3 linked regions of the Homo sapiens genome follow. The protein of the gene in region 3 purifies or fractionates together with the protein of the main gene of each other region. This does not show direct contact. Each region holds a gene or a part of one and is shown on either strand. Other genes may lie near its edges. The genes, in order: NSMCE2, NSMCE4A and SLF2.

What was found.
Region 1: the proteins of SLF2 (region 3) and NSMCE2 purify together in Homo sapiens (affinity purification with mass spectrometry; one large-scale study listed by BioGRID and IntAct). This does not show direct contact.
Region 2: the proteins of SLF2 (region 3) and NSMCE4A purify together in Homo sapiens (affinity purification with mass spectrometry; one large-scale study listed by BioGRID and IntAct). This does not show direct contact.

Annotation. Positions count from the first base shown.
Region 1 is NC_000008.11:125,101,843-125,105,495, reverse strand, and holds part of NSMCE2 (E3 SUMO-protein ligase NSE2), read right to left. Parts: intron 3,483-3,653; exon of another isoform or gene 3,446-3,482; 5' UTR 3,350-3,445; intron 3,180-3,349; 5' UTR 3,166-3,179; coding exon 3,009-3,165; intron 1-3,008. UniProt on the Homo sapiens protein: E3 SUMO-protein ligase component of the SMC5-SMC6 complex, a complex involved in DNA double-strand break repair by homologous recombination. Is not be required for the stability of the complex.
Region 2 is NC_000010.11:121,965,163-121,968,815, reverse strand, and holds part of NSMCE4A (non-structural maintenance of chromosomes element 4 homolog A), read left to right. Parts: intron 1-1,009; coding exon 1,010-1,161; intron 1,162-3,430; coding exon 3,431-3,530; intron 3,531-3,653. UniProt on the Homo sapiens protein: Component of the SMC5-SMC6 complex, a complex involved in DNA double-strand breaks by homologous recombination. The complex may promote sister chromatid homologous recombination by recruiting the SMC1-SMC3 cohesin complex to double-strand breaks.
Region 3 is NC_000010.11:100,947,389-100,951,041, reverse strand, and holds part of SLF2 (SMC5-SMC6 complex localization factor protein 2), read right to left. Parts: intron 3,283-3,653; coding exon 3,195-3,282; intron 967-3,194; coding exon 835-966; intron 367-834; coding exon 289-366; intron 1-288. UniProt on the Homo sapiens protein: Plays a role in the DNA damage response (DDR) pathway by regulating postreplication repair of UV-damaged DNA and genomic stability maintenance.

The sequences.
Region 1 (3,653 bases), on a different chromosome or scaffold from region 3:
TAAAACAAAACAAAACCAAGAGAAAAAAAAAACTCTGTAGCTAAAACTCCCAGGAATCTTCAAAAAGAATCCTGAAAAAAACTGATACAATCTCCCAAGGGGTTATGTTCCAGTCTTCTCTCTTATGGTTTAAGATTTTATTATGACTTTTATCCAGGCCTATCTATCAAAGCTAAATTATGATCACCAAAAACATAATCAAAAACAGACTGGGTAGGGTTAAAACATTTGGAGGCCACCCACTAAAAAGATTATGAGTGACACCTGCTGTTAGCCGTAAATGAATAACTGTATGGAGCTGGTCCACCTGCCATGAATGACTGAAAAACTAAACAAAATATATGAAACAATAGCTGTGGGACAGTAGGACAAAGGCGGGACAGGACTGTAATTACTGCAATAAGGGAAAACTGGGAAAAGTCTTGCAATGGCCTCCTCCCTGCGCAAGGGAGGAGGAATCCAAGGGAGTTTTTGAGACAGAGTCTCACTCTCTTCCCCAGGCTGGAGTACAGTGGCACAATCTCGGCTCACTGCAACCCCCTTCTCCCATGTTCAGGCAATTCTCCTGCCTCAGCCTCCCCAGTAGCTGGGACTACTGGCATCCTCCACCATGCCTAATTTTTGTTTTTTAGTAGAGACAGGGTTTCGTCAGGTTGGCCTGGAACTCCTGACCTCAGGAGATCCTCCTGCTTCGGCCTCCCAAAGTGTTGGGATTACAGGTAGGAGCCACCATGCTCGGCCTAGCACAGCAGTCTTGAAGGATTGAGGAGACAGAGACTTCAGTTCAGGGAGGCTGAGGCAGCCAGCAGGGTTTGCAAGAGAGTGAGGGAGCTATGCAGATAAAGAGCTCTAGGAATCTGCACTGGGGTCCCCTTGAGTCTGATGCTGAGTCCTAAGATGCTGAGCAACAAATACTGACAGCTATAAAGTGAACAACTCCCAGGTTCAGTCACGTAGGACCTAGGACCGGGAGACACTCAAATTCCATCCAGCCAGAGTAGAGCTATCGCACTGAACCCTCGGGGCAATCAAGAGAGACTCCAGAAGGGCCATGCTTTGTAACAAGGCTAAATTAGCCCTAACATAAAGGCTATATTAGACTTGACCTAACAAAGCTTAACGATAAGCCTAGAAAGGATCAGCCTAATCCACAATCACTTAGCTGCACACCAAACAAACTCCAACACTATTTAAAAGAGGACAACAAGCTGGGCATGGAGGCTCATGCCTGTAATTCCAAGATTTTGGAAGGCCAAGGCAGGCGGATTACCTGAGGTTGGGAGTTTGAGACCAGCCTGACCAACATGAAGAAACTCCGTCTCTACTAAAATTACAAAATTAGCTGGGCGTGGTGGCGCATGCCTGTAACCCCAGCTACTCCGAAGGCTGAGGCAGGAGAATCGCTTGAACCCGGGAGGCGGAGGTTGCAGTGAGCCGAGATCGCACCATTGCACTCCAGCCTGGGCAACAAGAGCAAAATTCCGGCTGAAAAAAAAAAAAAAAAGACAACAAAATCCAAACACTCAACAACATAATACACATAGAGATGACAGAATTAACATACAAGGATATTAAAATAGCTATTATAAACATGCTCCATATACTCAAGAATGTAGAGGAAAATATGGACACAATGAAGAAAGAAATGGAAGACTAAAAAAAAAGATTCTACTTAATTCTTTGTTATGTCTTCAACAATTAAAAATACAGTAACTGAAATTTTTAAATTCACTAAATGGAATTATCAGATTAGACACTGCAGTAGACAAGATGAATGAACTTAGCAATAGAAATTATTCAAATTGAAGCTAAAGAGTAAAAAGACTGGAAAAAATCTATCAAGTTCCACTGATTTATGGGACAATATCAACCCATCTAACATACATGAAATGTGAGTCACACAGAAGGAGAGGAGAGCAGAGGAATTAAAAAAATATATTTGAAGAAATAGTAGCAGAAATTTTTCCAAATTTGATTCAAAAAACTATAAGCTGACAGATCCATAAATCTCAAACAATATCAGTCAGGACAAAAAAAATCACACCACGGCACATCACAAATTGCTCAAAACCTATGCCAATAAAAACAAAACAAAAGGATCATGCTGCTCCTCTGGCTCCATGTGTAAAATAAAATAAAAACGATTCTACTCCAAAGAAAGCAAATAACATCTTTTTTCTTTTTTTTTTTGAGACAGAGTCTTGCTCTGTTGTCCAGACTGGAGTGCAGTGGCTCGGTCTCGACTCACTGCAACCTCCACCTCCCGGGTTCAAGTGATTCTCCTGTCTCAGCCTCCCGAGTAGCTGGAATTACAGGCACCTGCCACCACACCCAGCTAATTTTTTGTATTTTTAGTAGAGACGGGGTTTCACCATGTTGGTTTTGTATTTTTAGTAGAGACGGGGTTTCACCATATTGGCCAGGCTGGTCTCAAACTCCTGACCTCGTGATCTGCCGGCCTCGGCCTCCCAAAGTGCTAGGATTACAGGGGTGAGCCACTGCACCCGGCCTGCAAATCACATCTTTCTAGATCTTCTTGATTGAACAAATGTAGGTAAAATTCATTAAAGTTGAACTTTTCTCATTTTTGTTGAGGCCTTCCTTTGCTGGTATCCCTAGCATAAGCTTAGTCTATCTACTGGTTAATCAAGTATGACCAAAGTATAAACTACTGAAAAATAACAATATCATAATAAATTTATATACCTTACAGTTCACAAATGTCAAATACTTTAGATTGTATGCTCCTTGGGGTCAGGATCTTCAAATCTTTGCCCATACATTTCTAGCGCAGTTTCTCATGGAACTTAACTGTCTGAACACACATGAATGAGTCAATCTTATTTCACCCTCAGTACCCTGCTGCGGTGTGTAGAATAAAATGAGACAACAGATGCCTAGAGGGGTTAAATCATTCCCCCAAGGATACTCAAAAGGCACCCCCAGATAAATACCACCACACAGTGTTACCTCAAAGTAGACACAAAAGAGGTTTTAATTTTACTTACTCTGACTTTCCACAAGATCCAAAGCAACACTAGAAGCTGTGTCCATACCAGAGTTGATACAGGCTTGGAAGTTTTTCAAGGAGGAGAGAGCAGACTCTACACCACTGAAGGAGATGAAACCAGTTGAACCTGAATTTGAACTGGAACGTCCTGGCATCTTGAAATTAGTACCTAAGTTTTCAAACACAATGAAACAAGATTCGTAAGTCAGAATAATAACTGCACAGGAAAATATTAATAAAACTGCTGTAAACATTCATACAAATGTATCCAATATCTCATAAATGCCACACTATTCTGTATATCCTATAGAGAAGACACCAAATCACTGTGCCACTCACCTGGGCCACCAAACACAGCTGGACTCAATATATGGGGAAGGTAAGTGTCCTCAGTTTTTGGAGAGAGATTACCCTCTTCCAAAAGAGTGCTTGATTCTGTGAAGAAGTCAACAATAGCACAGTTCTTAAAAGCCTACAAGATAAATGGGTTAGAAAAAGTAGACCACTCATATGATGCAATTTTCCAAAGAGAAAAAAATACTAATAAAATAGTTTATTAGTAAACTATTTTGAAAACCTGTAATCGTTAAACTATCCAACATATATGCATACTGAATTCTGGAAACTGTAAAAAAAAGAGAAA
Region 2 (3,653 bases), about 21 Mb from region 3:
CATAGCGCTCTGACCAGGCTCTTGTAGCCTTTCTTTTCTTTAAAGTCTGATTGCCTTTAATAGGGTTAAGCTCCCTGAGGGTTTTGTGATTATTGTTTATATATGATATTGCCATCGTAATTGGATAACTTCTAGGCATTTTACAGTATAATGTAATAAAAATGTACTTTCATAAAAGTAAATTCAATATAACACATTTTCTGTAAGACAGTTTGAGATGAGAGAATTATTTGACTTCCGCCAACTCTTCCCAGGAAGGCAATTTTAAGATGAGCCATTCTCTCAGTGATGCCGGGCCACTGCTCTCTGGATATACTGAGATACAAGCTGAATAGAGATTTGTAGGAGGTTGGCAAAAAATTAAAATCTGAAAACCAGCTGAACTTCCTTGTGCTGTCTTGAAGCTTTTGATTTGGGATTTAATTTTATATTTATATGTTAGTGCAGCTTTACTAATACACGAACTATTGGTGATACAAAAAATCCCAGGGGGCTGAGTTCTGGCATACCTAAATACTTCTGGCTGCCAGTGGGCTACAGCAGGGTTTCTCAGCACTGGCACTATGGATTGGCATTTTGAGCTGGGCATGTCTTTGTTTTGGGGGCTGTTACTGTGCATTATATGATATTCAACAGCCTCCATGGCCTCTACCCAGTATATGCCAGCAGCATATCAGTTGTGACACCCACAAATGTCTCCAGGTATTGCCAGAAGACCCCTGTGGGCACGTATACCCAGGTTGAGAACCACTGGTCTAAATCATTTCACTTTCTCACCCAAAGGTTTTAAGTACATTGAGGAATGTTTTCTGCCAAAAAGAAGGTAGCTTTGGAAGCAGGACTTTAACTGTAAAGTTATCTTCACAGTAAGAAATTTAGCCAGCATGTTAAGACACTGAAAGCTGGCTTTGCGTCTGGCCTCTTAAAGGTTGAGTGATGCGGATTATTGGATGTGGAAAATGATTGCATGTGGCTTAACTGGGTTTTTTGTTTTCCTTCATTTTTGTAGCTCACACATATGGGTGTAAATCCGCTAGAAGCTGAAGAACTCATCCGTGATGAAGATAGTCCTGATTTTGAATTCATAGTCTATGACTCCTGGAAGATAACAGGCAGAACAGCAGAAAACACCTTTAATAAAACCCATACATTCCACTTTCTGTAAGATTATTTTAAAAATCCAACAGACCAGTTATTTGTGAACCTTAAATTGCTTTTTCTTGTAGGGACAAAGATTATTTGGTATTGTAGAGGTGACAGTCATGATGCCGTTGTTTGGAGACTTTTGAAACTTTGATATGAAAGTTCATAAACACTAGGCCGGGTGTGGTGGCTCATGCCTGTAATCCCGGCACTTTGGCAGGTGGATGCAGGTAGATCATCTGAGCTCAGGAATTCAAGATCAGCCTGGGCAACATGGCGAGAACCCATCTCTACCAAAAATACAAAAAATTAGCCCGCTGTAGTGGCCCATGCCTGTGGTCCTGGCTACTTGGGAGGCTGAGGTGGGAGGATCACTTGAGCCTGGGAGGCAGAGATTGCAGTGAGCTGAGATTGCGCCATTGCACTCCGGCCTGGCTGACAGTGAGACCCTGTCTCAAAAAAGAAAAAAAAGTCCATAAACTCTAGATGTGGATGGAACCTTAAAGGATCTCTCATTCTGCTTTAGCAGAAAAGGCCAGAACCTCTTTACCAGTGCTCTCCTGGCTCCTTTGCTTCTAGCTCATGAGACTCTGGGTTTATCATCTTTAAAATCCTTATCATATAGGAGGATGATACCTCCTACTGAGGGTATCTTATGAGTCTCCCAACGTCTAAAGTGACATTTATTATAATACCCTGTTAGATGACCACTGACTTGTATTTGAAGATTACTTGTCACTGCCACATAAACTGTCCAGTTCATTTTTTAGATAGAACTCTGATTTAAAAAAAAGATTTCTTTATATTTGAATGAAGTTGGCTTCTGTCTTAACTTCCTGGCATGGTCCTATGGAGAAATTAAGAACAGCTCTTACTGGCTCTTCTCTAAGAGGACCTTCAAGTATACTGGTTTTGTTGCCCAGTAAATACTTTAGGGTAGCCATCTGAGTTGTTCAGTCCTTCTTTAAGTGGTATAGCTCCTGGGCTTTTGTCTTTTCTAATTTGTCTTTCTAAAAACCATTGAGATTGATAGTAGCTCGGGTAGAAGGCCTTGGAGATGCCAATGTAGTAGTGTGGTGTGGGGTCTGGCATCTATTTTTAATAAGACTTCAGGTAACTCAGGTGCCCAGAGCCATTTGTGTATGTTCTATTTAATAGGATGTAGTCCAAACTTCTTCATCTTAGGATAAAGTCTAAATCTTTGTTTTTTGCTATTGTACTAAACTCATAAATCCTAGGTTATAAAGATAAAGCCTTAAACTTTATCTCATCATCCAGCCCAATTTCCAGCCACAATGAAGTACTTAAAACTCTGTGTCTTTGTACTTGCTGTTCTCTTGGCCTCCAATTCCTTTTCATCTTTTCCATTCGGTAAAGTTTGTTTATCCCACAGGCCCCATCTTGGAAGCCTCCAGCAACTTCTCCAGACAGAGGTGTTAGCAGTGTAGGATCAGATTTCTCAACCACGTCACTCCCATGTCTGGGTAGATATCTCTGCCCAAGTGTTCTCATAGCACTTGAGCAGTACTCTCTAAGCGCCCAGGATCTACCATGTTGCTTTTTTAAAATTTGATTAATTTATTTTTTTATACTGCTCCTTGTGGAGCAGGAGTGTTCCCAGAGTAGCCCACCATGTTATATTGAAATGGATCTGTGTGCATAATGCAGCTGTCCATCTACATCGTATATTTTTGTCTCCTCAAGGGTAGGGACCACATGAGCCTTATTCTTGGGGCTTTGATCTCTACATGATGCAGACTTACATCTATTACTGTAACCCAAGTCTGCATGAGGGCAGAATCCAGAAGGAAAAGGAATCCCATGGCTGTGACTTGCCCTGTTATCCTAAGACAGATGTGTTCTGTAGTCCTGGGCTGGGAGCCTCTGCCTTGGCCTCCCCAGATCAAAGTCTTCTGACCCCACTGGAGCTTCCCCACATACATGTTCATCCTTCCCCTGCTCTTAGAAGTTGGCTTTGCAAAACAATAGGTTGGGTGGTGGGAAGATGTCACAGGCATATTCACTGGCCTACTTTACAGGGCAGTATGTAGGTGTCTGAGGAGGTATCTGTGGTTGAGTAAAGCTCCTAGGAGTTCTTTTAGAAATACAAAGAAGGCAGAAAGGCTGTCACAAACCTTATCAAGAGTCTTACTCTGATGTCAGCTTGTATATCACTGATGTCTGGTCTGAATTTGACTATACCATGCAAACTACTTTTAGTTAGTAAAGTTAGTTTGTTTAACAAACAACAGGCAAAAAAAATAAATGAAAGCATACTTTTCATTAGGTTGGGTTCAATATACGGAGAGTGCCCTGTGCCAAAGCCACGAGTTGATCGTCCAAGAAAAGTTCCTGTGATACAAGAGGAGAGGGCAATGCCTGCCCAGGTTTGTTTTAAAATGTTGCTTTTAAAAAAACACATTAAAGTTAAAATAGCTGTTAAAATAATGTGCATGCAATTTGGCCATTTTTTCTAAGTGTGCGGGTCTGGAGCCAGGTTTTGTCACTTA
Region 3 (3,653 bases):
CTTGAACTCCTGACCTCAAGTGATCCACGCACCTTGGCCTCCCAAAGTGTTGGGATTACAGGCGTGAGCCATGGCGCCTGGCCAACAATTCTTTTCAATACGATATAGTTACAAGACCATTATCATGCCCCTCTTTCTGGTATACATGGGAATTCTTATAGCAAAATCAATTAGCTTTTATATTAAGAAAAGTTTACATAGTTTTCTCCTATATAAAGCATGCTCACTCATTCCATCATCAGTAACACCTATTTAAAAACAGCAGCAACAACACTAAACACTACCTACCCGTTGTCCAGAAGAAAAAGAATGAGAACAACTAACTTCACCGACTAAATGAAGAAGAATGTAGGTCAGGTAATATGCCTGTTAGAGAAATGAATAAAATTAACACCTATGAATTAGCTAGCATAGATGTCATTCCAATTTACACATTAGGAAAATTGCCCAGGAAGGATAAAGGATACGGTCAAGTTAACCCAGCTGGTCAGTAAGTAAAAGCGAAGCATCTAAACTAGGCTTTCTCATTTCTAACTCAAGTGCATTCTTTTTACCATGATTCATGACCTCACGACTGCCCTAATAAAGGGCTACAAAAAATACTCTTGGGAGCAAATTACCAACAATCATCCTTTTACCTAAATTTTCAACTCTCAAATTTATGGAAGAATTTCATGACAGTGATAAATTAAAAATATTATTCGCTTTAAAATTATGTTTGCTAGAATGTGTCTAGTGTCCAAATCCAGAAATGCCTACATATCAGTCTATGGTTAGTAAGCTGATAACAGTTATGCTTCTATGTACTCTTTGAGACCTTCTAGCACTGGATACCTGCTTTTCAAGTTCTAAATGAAGACTGTCATCAATAATGCCATCTGGTTGTTCAGCCTTTTTCTTCAAGACCATTTTCTTTAACAAATCAGAAGGCTTCATCTGCACAAGATAGCGATGTAGGACTGATACCTATCAAAAGAAAGAGGAGACATTGAACAAAGCTAAATAATATAGTTGTTCTTTCTTAGGCTATTTTTTTCCAGTGTGTACTCTTTCATTTTGTCCTTTTATTATAGCTTTCTTTACACTTAACAATATCCATTTTCCCTTTATGTAAAACCCTGAATTGCTTAAAAAGGGATTTTAAGTGGTCGGGCACGGTGGCTCACACCTGTAATCCCAACACTTTCAGAGGCCAAGGGAGGTGAATCACCTGAGGTTAGAGGTTCAAGACCAGCCTGGCCAACGTGGAGAAACCCCGCCTCTACTAAAAATACAAAAATTAGCTGGGCATGGTGGCACATGCCTGTAGTCCTAGCTACTCGGGAGGCTGAGGCACGAGAATCACTTGAATATGCGGGGTGGAGGTTGCAGTGAGCCGAGATTGTGCCACTGCATTCCAGCCTGGGTGACAGAGCAATACTACATCTCTCAAAAAAAAAAAAAGGGATTTTAAGTTAAAGATTTAGTACTTGTAACTTAGGATAAATGCTTAGGAGACCAAACGATATTATCATAGAGGCCACAGGGAATGCTTTCTCTGTTAAATTATTTGAAAGTCAACAAAGTTGACTCTGTGGTTAGAAGTCATTGAATTCTGAGAAGAACTACAAGAAGTTGTGGTAAAAATCACAACTAGATTGTTACTTGAATATCAGTTAGTGAGTTTGAGGGTTAATTATTCATGTAATTATTCAGCTAATTATTCTATTTTACATGGGCAAAAAAGGAAAAAGTAACAGAACAACAAAAGTTAGGAGAAATGGTAGAAATCCTATCCCCGGATCTCTTTTGAAGGCAGTAAATATCAATGAAAGGAATGAGAACTATCTGCTAATTATCCTGGTAGCTCCAGCATGATCCCCATATATCTGGAATCAAATCTACCTCAATTCTACTAAAGCAGAAACCAGCTGTGCCCATCAGTCTCTCCATCCCACAGCATCTCGTGCATGCTTCGATTACTGTTCTTACCACACTAACCCATAAGAGTTGGTTAATTTTGTTTCAACCATTAGATTATGTTTTCAAGGGCAGAGTCTCTAATCTAAATCTTTGTTTGTTTTAATTCCTAGGATCTGGTGGCATACCTTGTACCAAATTGCAATTCAAACAAGAACAAAGGGACATCCAGATCAGGTTCTATGGGGCTTTTTTTTGAGACAGAGTCTCGCTCTGTTGCCCAGGCTGGAGTGCGGTGGCGTGATCTCGGCTCACTGCAAGCTCCACCTCCTGGGTTCATGTCATTCTCCTGCCTCAGCCTCCCGAGTAGCTGGGACTACACGTGTCCGCCACCATGCCCGGGTAATTTTTTTGTATTTTTTTTAGTAGAGACGGGGTTTCACCGTGTTGGCTAGGATGGTCTTGATCTCCTGACTTCGTGATCCACCTGCCCCGGCCTCCTAAAGTGCTGGGATTACAGGCGTGAGCCACTGTGCCCATCCTATGGTGAGTTTTCAAATCCAAGCAAGGGCAGCCCCATTAGTGCTATCAATGTTTATAAAAAGCCTTCAGAATTTTACTCAGAGTGGGACTTCCATTGGACATTTTTTTTAATTAAAAACATTCATATATATATTAAAGACAAGGTCTCCCTATGTTGCTTAGGTTGGACTTGAACTCCTGGATTCAAAGGATCCTCTGGCCTCAGCCTCCCAAGTAGCTGGGACGATAGGTGTGTGCCACCAGTACCCAGCAACAGCTGGACATGTTTATCCACACTCTCATATATACATGATATATTCTTACTGAACAAGTACTAGAGGGCAACTACATTTAAGCTCTATGATCTAAAAAGACTCATTTTAAAACAGGTTAAAGATGCAATCAATGTACAAGGGTTTTGCAATTTCTAATCTTGTGATAAAATTGCTAACTTGGAAAAGCTGAACTAATTCAATAAATGAAATCATATTCATATAATTGCACATTATGATTTTCCCAGTAGTTTCTTTATACATTAATTCACATCTGATTGTCCACAACCACCCTAAGTGGTGGAGGGTGCAATATTATCTCCATTTCACAGATGAAAAAATTGGATCTTGTTAGTTAAGTGTGCTAGAGATTACATGAACAGTATCAAGCTTAAGAGCTGAGCTCTGACCCCAGGACCTTTGACTTAGGGTTCATCAATTTTCCTTACACCTCTCATTACCTCTCCCATTTATTAAAAATAAAAATGTATTTATTTATACCTGCAGATTACTGGCATTAGGAACATCTTCGTGTTTCTCATCCAAAAGCTTTGAAATAATCACTAGACTGAGGCACTGTCTCAGTTGCCTAGAATTAGAAGTTAAAAGTATTTAGAATGTATTTTAATTAATACTGCTTGAAAAGCAAATGAATGAGCCAAGAGGAGCTCTAGTTCTAATTGGAAATATAGGCAATGTTTCAAGAGAAGTCTGTACAGGAACATATAAGCTGTTATAGAACAGTAAAATTTTCATGTAAAATATCTGTACATAAAACTTGAGTTATCTGAAGCTCAATAAATCATTTAACGGCCTTATCTTTGACCCTGATGATTTACTGACAGAAAACCTATTTTTTTACTGATGAAATTTATTTTTACTAAAGCAAAAAAAAGCTAATTCATTTATTTTTGTGGAATATGTCATCTGTATTAAGGTAACAGATAAACTAAAATTAAA